Linked DNA regions of Homo sapiens: region 2 is linked to region 1. The links come from fine-mapping of genetic effects on gene expression. A gene starts in region 1. The other region holds a variant in brackets. All regions are shown on one strand. Distances are between the middles of the regions. Region 1 holds the start of CADPS2 (calcium dependent secretion activator 2). Region 2 overlaps CADPS2 (calcium dependent secretion activator 2).

Region 1 (5,381 bases):
TGGGTAAAGATCTTATCTTTGTGATTAATTTTCTTCATAAAATGAGGACCCTTTCAGATCTCAATTTCTGGGTCTCTAAATTCTTGAAGTTGAGAGAAGTGAGTAAGCAGCAATATTCATTTCAATGACAACAATTTCAGCTATTAAATCTTTTTACTGGATGCCTGACTACTTGAAGATACAGAATAAAATAAACAACGGATTAGTGATTTTGCAATTACCTTGTTACTTCTTTTAGATAATCTAACTGTATAATGCAAGACTTCAAGTAAGTTTTGGCATTACTTATTAGCTTGTGCATCAAATTCACATAAACATAGTTAAATTCCCATTTCATTTTGCCCTAAGAGGAAACCAGACTGCCAAAAGTTGCTCCAGCTCCCTTTAGTAAGCAGCACATTTTTTAAAAGGTGGGGGAGGGTTGAGTAAAGTAAATACTTAGGCTATTTGGCATCCATCTTAATAAAAAATAAAAGTAATTCACAAAAGTTAACCTGTGCTCAATGCTCTAAGCATTTAGAATGTGGAAATTCCTAAGGATTCTATTTTTTTTCATAGAATATATGTTGTATTTTGCTTTTTTTGTAGTTTGAAATTATCTTTGGTAATGCCTGGATAAGGTTATAACAATAGTCTCCCCAGTAGTATTGTGAATGCACCTGCTTGCCAATTCAAATAATTTTGAACAAATATTTAAACAGAAGGAGTCAGAGAAAAATGCACTATTTGAACAGCTAAGGGAGGGTCCACTTCATTAACAAAATGCAACAAGTATTCACAGTATAAATCAACTCATAGTAAATTTGCAAAAGCATCTTCAAGGATAATATTCCAAGGAGAAAATAGTCTCTTAATTTTACCAAACATTATTTTTACACTTTAATCATTAAAAATAGGCTTAAATGCAATATGAATGGTAAAACTAGAGACTGGATGATATGAACTCATACCACAACATATACAAAAAATAGTTTTAACAATGACTATTGAAGCTGACAGTCGCTTGACTAGAATTGAGAAGAGGCCACGGGTGACTGCCTCAGAACAGACTCAATTAGAGCAGCTGATTAGGAAGTATGGGATTCATACAGGAGTGGAGCAGCAGGCTCATAAAAACACCGCGGGGCATTCAAAACTTACCTGAGTAATGGTGGTTTTAACTGTGCCAATTTGTTTGGGATTGGGAAATGCTATTATGACCTATTTCTCTTCTCCAACATGAGGAGTCTCCCTACCATTCTGTGACTGAATACCTAGGGTTAGGTTACCTGAAGGATCTGTTATTAATCTCCAGCTGTAAGGAAATATTCCATAAGGATTCCCAGAGAATAAATGATTCCAAAATAGTTGCTCAGTTTGTGTGTGTTTTAAAAAGTTGGGTAAGACCACTTAAAATTTTTTTCTAAGAGGATAGATCTTAAGCATACAATAGTGTTAACTATAGGTGTGTACTTATCCCCATGATACTTATACACCTATGAAACCACCAATAGTTAGGGTGGAGTGGTATGCACAGCTTTTTACATGTCAATTATACCTCAAAAAATAAAGGTTATCTAAATGGGGGTAGGAGAATGTAGGGAGACTGAATTTACTCTGAACTACAGTTATAGTTGAAGTCAACTCAAAACCTCTCCAAATTTCTAAAAATGCCTCACACACTGAAGTTAATATTTCAGAAAACTAATAAATGTCTGTGCATGTAGGTATGCCTTGAGCAGACTACAATCTCTCTGGATCTCTAGGTCTTGTCACAAACTGAGGGAACTGTTACCGATTTCTACAGAACCTTCCAGGTTCAGCATTCTATTAAAAAGATTTCCTAGAGTTTGTATTGTAAACATTTAACCACTTAGGACAATTTGAGTCATTACTCGTGTCTGGTACAGAACATCAGGCCCCTGGGGTCTTGTTTTGAAACTCAAGTTGGCCAGCCTTTCACCTGAAACAAACTTCTTACCTTTTGGGGGAGAATAAGCATTTTGTTCCCCAAAAAAGCATTTGGAAAGCATTTGTTATGAAGTGATCATGCACCAATCCTTTATCTTTCATCAGTAATAGTATATTTCATTAATCAGGCCTGCCCAGACCAGAAATTACTTACCCACAAACACTTTACAAAGCTGCATGCCTTCTCGGTGTTTGGATTTGATGTCCTGGTTGTATGACAATATAGGAAACGTATTAATTTAACTTTTTTATTCACTGAGGAAAATTTCTACCCCTCTTAAGTGAAGACTTCACTCTAGCTAAGAGAAGTACTCGGGCTCCACCTGTTTCGCCTAGCTACAACACTCATTCAGACCCTCGGCAAACCCAGCTCTAGCAATATCACGCCAGGCTAGGTGGACAGGAATGCACCAGTGCTGTTGGAAATTAAAGTTGATGGGAGTTGCATTCTAATCCGGCCAGAGCTGCGCCTGCCGGGTGCAACCGCGGCGCGGCCGGCGCTGTCGGTCTCTGTCTCACGGATGGTGAGCTGACAGCTCCTGCCAGCCCAGGCGGGGAGGAGGAGAAGAGGTGTCCGCTGCAGCCGCATACCCGGCGGGTGAAAGCACCGTCTTGTCCCCAAAGATTCCTCTGCCCTCAGAGACTAACAAAAATACGGTGTCCTGCGTTTCGCAGAAGGACGGGAGGCGTCCCAGAGCTCTCCCGGGAGAAAAACCCAGGGAGAAGTGGTGGTAGGAGGCGCCCGGTCCCGCAACTCACCTTCTGCTGCCTCCGGGCCATGTCGGTGGGCTGCTTGGCGTTGAAGGGGTACGCGATGCACCTCACGACGAAGACGTAGAGCTGCAGGCGGATCCTCCGCTCCTGCTCATCGTCCAGCTGCCGCTGGGGCTCGTCTCGCCCCTCGCTGAGCACAGAGGGGCTCGGGCTCACAGATCTGGCCGCGCCGCCGCCGCCCGCGCGCCCCGGCGCGTCCCGCCGCCCTTCCCGAGTCGGGGCTGGAGGAGCTCGCTGCGAGCTGCCGGCTGCCACCAGCACATCGCGGCTTTCCTCTTCCAGCCCCTCGTCCGACTCCTCTTCGCTGGAAGACGGGTCCAGCATGGTGCTCGGGGATCCCCGCCGCTCGGCCCGCGGTCCCCAAGCGCCTCACCCCCGGCGGCTGCGCCCGCGGGTCTGAGGGAGCCGCGGGGCTGGCTGCAGCGGCCGCAGAACGAAAGGAAAACTGGCCAGGGCTTTCCGGACACGTCGAGTTAGATTCAGGAGTGTTTCCTACCACCAGGGCGAAAGGGGCGGGCAGGAGCCGGGAGGAGGATTGGGAGGGGGGAGAGGGGGAGCCGCCGGGACTGAATAGGCGGAGTTAGCGTTGGGGGTGAGCTTGGGCGCCTCAGGAATTGCTCCGCCAGCCCCGGGCGCGCCGACCCAGCGGTTCCCCAGAGCCCGCCGGCAGAGGCGGAGCCGCCCGAGCGCCCGGACGCAGGTGGGGAACCTGTGGCGCCTACAACAAGCAACACGTGGAATTGAATGTTGAAGAGCCGCGCGGGGCCGCGGAGTGCGCGTGCGCGCGCCGCCGCTGCTGCCCGGGCCCGCCTGGAGCCCTAGCACACAGTTTGCAAAGGCGGGGAGCGGCCGAGCGCGATGGCCCGTGTAAGCGTCCACCGGGGCTGCTCCGACTACCCTCACCCTACCACCTGTGATCTTTTCTCCAGCAGGTGGAGGTGGAATGGGGAGCGGGGAGGGACTGTTCCCTAGCAAGAGGTTAGGGGGAGCGGCCGAGACATCTCCCCAACCCGAATCGGCTGCCTAGGATTGAACCCCAGCGCGGAAAAGCGGGACTGGAGCCCTTCACCACGAAGTATCTTTGCGACAAGACTTTGAAAAGTCTCACTCTGCTCTGCTGCCGTTTTGATACTCATGCTGAAGCCCAAATTATAAAAGTCGGAGTAATGAAAAAAAAAAGAAAACCAACGAGGCTTACTTTTTAAACTGTTCTAGTCCTGCAGACTCAAGGCAAGAGAGATTTTATATGTGCAAAATGATACTGATTCAGCTCAAACATATCTCGATTATTTTCTGGGTTGGGATGCAGTTGACTCAAAACAGGTTGTGTAGTGTGGACATTTATTCAACAAAGATTTGAGCGCCCTCCCGGTGTCCAGCACTGTTAGCCTTTTGCGGAGCCCGCGGTGACTAAGGCACATGACACTCAGTCGCTGGTGGTTCTGGCCTCAAGTCGGCGTCTTGTAGCTGCGCTGAAGCCTGCCTTATCTGCGCAGATTTCTCAGTCCTAGTGCTGGAACCACCTAGGAGTTTCTTATAGTAATTCTGTATCTTATGTCCTAAGTCCTGACAGAGGGGGAAATAGGCAAAACAATGCATTCAACACCAGGTGGAGTGTGCAGCGACCAGGTGGGCAGGGAGGTGATGAAGTTCAGTGGAAATAACACAGGGCAAATTAACTACCAGCTCTGAGCTCCTCTACCACCATGGTCAAACAGCAGTTTTAGCTTTTTCAGGCCACTTTCATATAGTTAGGTACACAAGAGAGACTTCTGCACTTACTGACATTCTCTCTAGATGGGTAAAAGACAAGGAGGCATTTACTCCTGAGGAGTCTTACCTATTTTTCTGCCTAATCCATAACAGGCCCCCTAGTAATAAAAGGTCTTCAGTAAGAGCATGGCTGTGGGATGATCACAAACTGCCAAGAAATAGAAAATCTCAAACACCTATGTATTTAAAGGCAATGTTTTATTTTTGGCAAGGCAAACAAATAGCAATCTTGTCATAATAGCTGATGCTTATCTAGCACTTTGCAAAGATCTGTGAAATTGTTTAATACCCTCATCAAAGTAATAGCTTTCTGAGGCAGGTAGTATTATTATTGATTGCCCTTTGAACCAGATACTGCACTAAGCTCTTTACATACATTATCTCATTTATTTTAGGTTCCATTGTTCAAATAAGGAACCTGAGAGTTGAAGAATCCTTTCCTTAGGGTACAGAACTAGCACCTAATGGAATAAGGACTCAAAACAGTTTTCTAGTTCCAAATAGTGTCATTTTCTACTGCAATTTGCCTTGATAATAAGACAGTATAATAAATGTATGAGGTTTACTAAACTAATAAAAATTTCTAGGGACATAAATGTATGATTTAAATATAGCAACTTTACTGCCCTTTTCTTGCCAACAATAGGTATATTTTTCAGTTCCTTTTATTAATCAATATTACTTGATGTGATCACTTATTCTTTTCCCATTAAAGGTGGTTATTAAGTCAAAGATCTCCAAGCCTTGAGGATCCCACAGGAAAACATCTAATAATTTTTAGAGCAGAATATACAGTGTTTTCTCCATGAAGATGAAGATGACTTAAGAGGCATAAATTAAAGAAATATCTAAAAGACAACAAAGAGAATGTTTAAGCATCATTA
Region 2 (5,381 bases), 330 kb before region 1:
AAGAATTATAAACATTCTCAGGTATTCTAATTTTTTCACAAACAAAATAAATATGTTCATTAAAACTATATTGAAACATATCTTCTTGTGCATAAATCTTGAGGCAACACAAAGTGATTGTGAATCTGAAATTTCTTTGTAATACTGTTATAATTTTACTTTAATATAACAAAACTAAGTCCAGTCTCAAGTTGTTAGGGATAGTCTTTACCAATTTAATAAGGCTGCCTTCTATTCTTAGATTCTAATACTAAAATGTTTTGAAAGCATTCATGGCAATTGACTTTGTCATGCCCTTCCCCTACCCTCAAATCCTCATTTGCAGTATAAGCAGAAATCTTCACTGAGAAATCTTTAAGCAAGACTCCCCTTCTCTCTAGGAAAGACAACACAGTCATAAAAGCTTCTCAAACTATTCTCAACTTGCAAGTTGTTAAATGTATCTACTATTTTGAGACTTTTCTCAAGTCCTTCCTATAAAGCCATAGCTGTGTTGAATCCAGCATATCTATATACTCAAGTATATAAAGGACATCTAAGAACAAACTAAATGACATTTACAATGTTTTCACAATTATGATCATACTCTAGAATTCATTTTGACTGCTAAAATATCCAGTGTAATATTTTACAGATTCTTTCTTAAGTGACAGTAAAGAAAAATAAGCTGATAGCTTTTGGCTCAAACCAGTAGACAAAGGAATATCATTATCAACTTAGAAGATTATTCCAAAAAAGAATAAAAGACTAAGATAGATCTCTATATCCTCTGTAGCTATAGCTGCTATTTTCCTAATAAGTCTGGAAAGCTTTTTCTCTTTCTCCACACCCATCCCCCACACCAACTTTAAAAAAATTATTTGGCATGAGCCACTTACAGACTTTATTGTTTTTTAATTCTTCCTTCTATGTTTATATAAAAATTGGTATTGTACCAAACTCTGAACTCTTATACAGGAAGGGAATATTTAAATTAAAACTTTTGACAATTTCTCATTCTGCAAATGCTGATGATGGCTTGCTAAATTAGGTCCCAAAATAACTGATTTTGGCTGATCCACAAATTAAAGGCTATCCCAATATCGAATACCATTTTTTCTGCCACATTTTATTTTTTGATGGGTATTTCTAACTGAAGTCAGTGGAAGGATTTATTGCTCAGCTCTGTTCAATTAAATAAACACTGAGTTCTTACTATGTGAGGATACACAAAGATTAAAGAACATGAATGGCTCACATCTCTCAAGAGCTCAGTTCCTCTTCAATAGGGCTTAGTTTATGTCTTTTATTAATAGCACTCTTAGCTCTGATAATATCACTTCTTCCTATTGCTCTTCTTTCCCTAGAGTATGCAATGGTTTCCTGATTTAGTTAATTTCTGGGTATATTCACAATCATCTGCTTGGCTTCTCCCTATCATATGTATATCTAATTCCCTATGTTATGTTCCCTCCACTGGAAAGACGTGGGAATGTTTGTTTTTCTGGACAGACTGACTGATAAAGGTGTGAACATTGGCACGTGTAACAAGGGGAGGTCCACAGATACGAAATCTTCTGTTTCTAAGAGAAGTGCATTGGTAAATAAATGCTGAACTTAAACTTCAAAATGGTCTGTAAAATAGTTTTCAGGCTCCCAAATTGCACAAGCAAAAAAGTGGTCATACTCCTTTATCCAATTTCGCCATGAATGAATAGATAAGGAAGCAGCTCCCAAGGTGCAGAGCCCAGAGGGCCATGGAGAATAAAGGACAAGGGAGTTCTTTTCAGAACACACAATACAGCTCTAATCAAGAGATCTGGGACACTTCCTTGGCAGGGTGTCTTCACAGTGCCTGCCAGATAGGATTTCATTATTGTAATTGGACAATTACTGCCATGCGTTTCCCATTTTTCCTTTTTCCACGTGGCAAACTTACCCATAGCTCTCCTGTCCCTGTTCCGTTACTGTATATTGGATTTATCCTGAGGCAGAATGGGGAGGGAAGATGTCGTAGGCAGTTACCATGAACTTTAGTTCACAGGTTTCCAGCCTGCAAAGGGCCACTGCTAGCTGTGACACAGATATTGGACTGGATATAAAAATGAAATAGGACTTTGGGCTGTTTCTCTTGAGATAAGGTGAATGTGTTCTAGGTTTAGGAAGAA[A/G]GGCAACAAAACAACTTGGTGGCCACAAGGGTGAACTATGGCACACCGGCTGGCTATTTGCCACGATTCATGCTTTCACCAGTATAGAACTGTTGCTAGTAAACAGCTAATTAGCCAACAACCAGGTTTTCTAGCTCCTCCTGCTTCTAAGTAGGGACATATGAAAGTTCTTGTTAAAGGTGACATGTGTCACCTTGGGAAAAGGTGATCAAGATACAGGTTTGATGTCTTTACCCCACTTTATTCCACTGCCAGCCAAGTTCAGAGAACACCAATACCTAGGAAACGAAAGAAATCAGAGCCCTAAATCACCATGTGGAAGAAAGTCACACTTCTATCAGGAATACCTGTGGTAAACTCTTACAAACCTGATATTATTTTGAATTATTGAAATGTAACGACTTTCTTGTTATAGCATTTAGCAGTATCCTAACTAGTATATCAACAAGGTATTTTGTTTCAAAATCTTTCAAAAGTAAATAATGAAGAATTGTTTTTTTTTATTAGAAGCAGTTCCACTTCAATAGGACTCAGTTCATGTTTAGAGATTGTGTCTGATGTTGACAGTCATAATAATTAAAATATTTAACAGATATAAAAGCTTACTAAGGATCCTTCTGTATCCTAAATTCGCATTTAAATTAAACTATAGCTCTGTACAAATAACTTTTAATATTATTTAGCAAACTATTTTGTTCTTTACCATTCGTTTCTCTTAACCTTTCCGTATGCATTTCTGCTTCTTCTCATTTATTTTTGTCACCAACACTTTAAATGTCTTGTCAGCATGGCACAAAAATGATTTCTTGTCTTAAACATAAAGCTAATGTATCTTCTTCATAATAAAATGTCAGTGTCACTTGTCATCTTTGCTAAGGTGTAATGGAAACCACAAAATGGATTTTTAGGATTTGTTAAAAATTCCATCAAATTTAATATACAGGAGGAAAAACTAAGACTTAAAAAAATGAAATATAAAATACACATTTACACACAGAAATGTTTAGAGTGATATGGGGTTCAGAAGTAGCTTTCTCTTAAAATATATAAGCTGTCACTTCTACATTGTTTCTTTTCTACTGAGATACCTGATTGAGGCCAAACTACATACATTTGTGCATAAACTCTGTGATCTGTGAAATCAAGACTATTTAAATTGCTAAACTCTGTTTCAACAAGCACCTGAAAAACTAAAACAAAAAACAAAACAGCACTGGGTGCTGGGGGAGACAAGCTAGAAAAACAGAGGGGCTAGACAGACAATTCACTACCTTCTCCCATATATGTCTCTTAGCTTAGAGAAAGGAAAAAAGACCCTGGGACCACAATAATTGCACCATATCTTATGGCAAAACAGCAGACACACAGTTGGTACAATTCTAGCTCAAAGATGAGTGCATTCAGCAATTCTTGAAAAAATCATGACAGCTTTCATAGAGGAATTACAGTTTCACTTGGAAGTCTAAAAGAACACCTAAGATTTATAAGGCTGACATGGGGTAGGGGATGAAAAATAAAGATATGGGGGCTGTTGAAACCAAACACTGTAACAGCGGCACCCTAGAAAAAAACACATGATTCCAATGCTGACATTTGTAACATTACTCTAGGTTCTCAAGCTCTTCCCCAAGCTTGGCTGTTCAACTTTTTCTCTGTTCCCTGGACTTAGCCTCAGTCCGTTTCCACCGCTCTCCACGAAAAGAACTTCAATCAGTACAAACACTCATTACATTTTCTGCCATGTCAATTCTCTTTATGTTCTTAAAAGATAAGAAGAGAGGGCCAGGTGCGGTGGCTCATGCCTGTAATCCCAGCACTTTTGGGAAGCCGAGGCAGGTGGATCACGAGGCCAGGAGTTTGAGACCAGCCTGACCAACATAGTGAAACCTCGTCTCTACTAAAAATACAAAAAATTAGTCAGGCATGGTGGCGGGTGCCTGTAATCCCAGCTACTTGGGAGGCTGAGACAGGAGAATAGCTTGAACCCAGGAGGCAGAGGTTGCAGTGAGCCGAGACTGTGCCATTGCACTCCAGCCTGGGTGACAGTGCGAGACTCCACCTCAAAAAAAAAAAAAAAAAAAAAAGGAAAAGAAAAAGAGAGAAGATAACCCGAGAACCCTCTGGGCACCACCTTTCTAGAGTTAGGAAAAGGGACAAGACTCTATAACTGAGACCAGTCACCAAGGAGGCAGAAGAAAGCTGAAGTTTGTGATGTACCAAATTTAAGGGGGAGAGTTTTTTAGGTAGTAGGAAGGGGGCATCAGGGTCACATGGGGATCAAGAGGCTGCACATTGTTGGGTCTGAAAGGCTATTGCCTGGTTAAAAAAGAGAGAGGTGACTGGAGACCTGAGCAGGAAAAAGTTTAGTTGCGGCCAGATAGCAATGGTGTGAGGGACATATCATGTTTGAGGAATAGAATAAGACTTCATTTAAGGTTTAAGTTGGCAAAATCAGGTAAGTTGGGCAAAATCATTTTGGCTAGAAGGTTACTGTGTGTAAAGGCAGGGAGGATGACAATACAGACAGGTAGGTTGAAGGAGATACAAGAAGGTAGGTTGAAGGAGATACCAGAAGGTTAAGCTTATGGATAAAACCAGTAATTATGGAAGATTAGGGATAGACTGTAAGAAATGTGTTTTGCTAAGCGTGTGTTATCCTATATAGGTAACATTTAGTAAAACAATGTTTACAAACCAGAGAATGAAAATCAAATTTTCATACTCAAGTAAAGAATAATTCCCCTCTCTCTAGCTACATACATCTCAGAGATGAGTCATGTGACTCAATGATCAGGTTTCTCATATCCAACTAAGTGATGAACTAGCCTCAAACAGAGGAAGAAGGAACTAAAAACACAATTAGCAGAAATCATGGTTCAATTTTTGATTAAAAATCACTTCTGCTTACAAACAGGTGTCCTTGAGACAAAGGATATTTTAGGCAAATGGCTGAGGGAACATCTTTCCAGATAAGTAGAGCCTATCTCTACAAGAAACCTTGACTTTTTGGGTTTAGTTGATGTTTCTTTTTCTCTTTCAATTGACAGAGATTTTATACTTTAGCAAAGATTCATAAAGACAGTCTCTAGCAAATCTTTCAAATACCTTCTTGAGAGTGTAGAACCTTGAGGTAGCATATATTATGAAAGGACTACCTGAAGTTTTTTTCACTTCAGTATTTATTTAGCAGATGTTAATAACCACATATATTAATATTTGCCCCAATATCAGAAC

The links.
Region 2: its variant is fine-mapped to the expression of CADPS2 in lung (TOPMed, PIP above 0.99).

The regions. Positions count from the first base shown.
Region 1 is chr7:122,883,290-122,888,670 of GRCh38, forward strand. It overlaps CADPS2 (calcium dependent secretion activator 2), which reads right to left and starts at 3,171. Exons shown (of 30, transcript NM_017954.11): 1 at 2,710-3,171. The coding sequence starts at 3,048. RefSeq lists an enhancer at 2,459-2,508 and silencers at 2,869-2,998, 3,039-3,088, 3,099-3,178, 3,249-3,408, 3,419-3,578.
Region 2 is chr7:122,555,562-122,560,942 of GRCh38, forward strand. The region is part of intron 7 of CADPS2 (calcium dependent secretion activator 2); the gene reads right to left. All of the region lies in intron 3 of LOC105375481 (a long non-coding RNA gene), which reads left to right. Among named protein-coding and RNA genes, the nearest start is that of RNF133, 140 kb to the right of the region's middle. The variant A/G (reference allele first, on the strand shown) is at 2,148.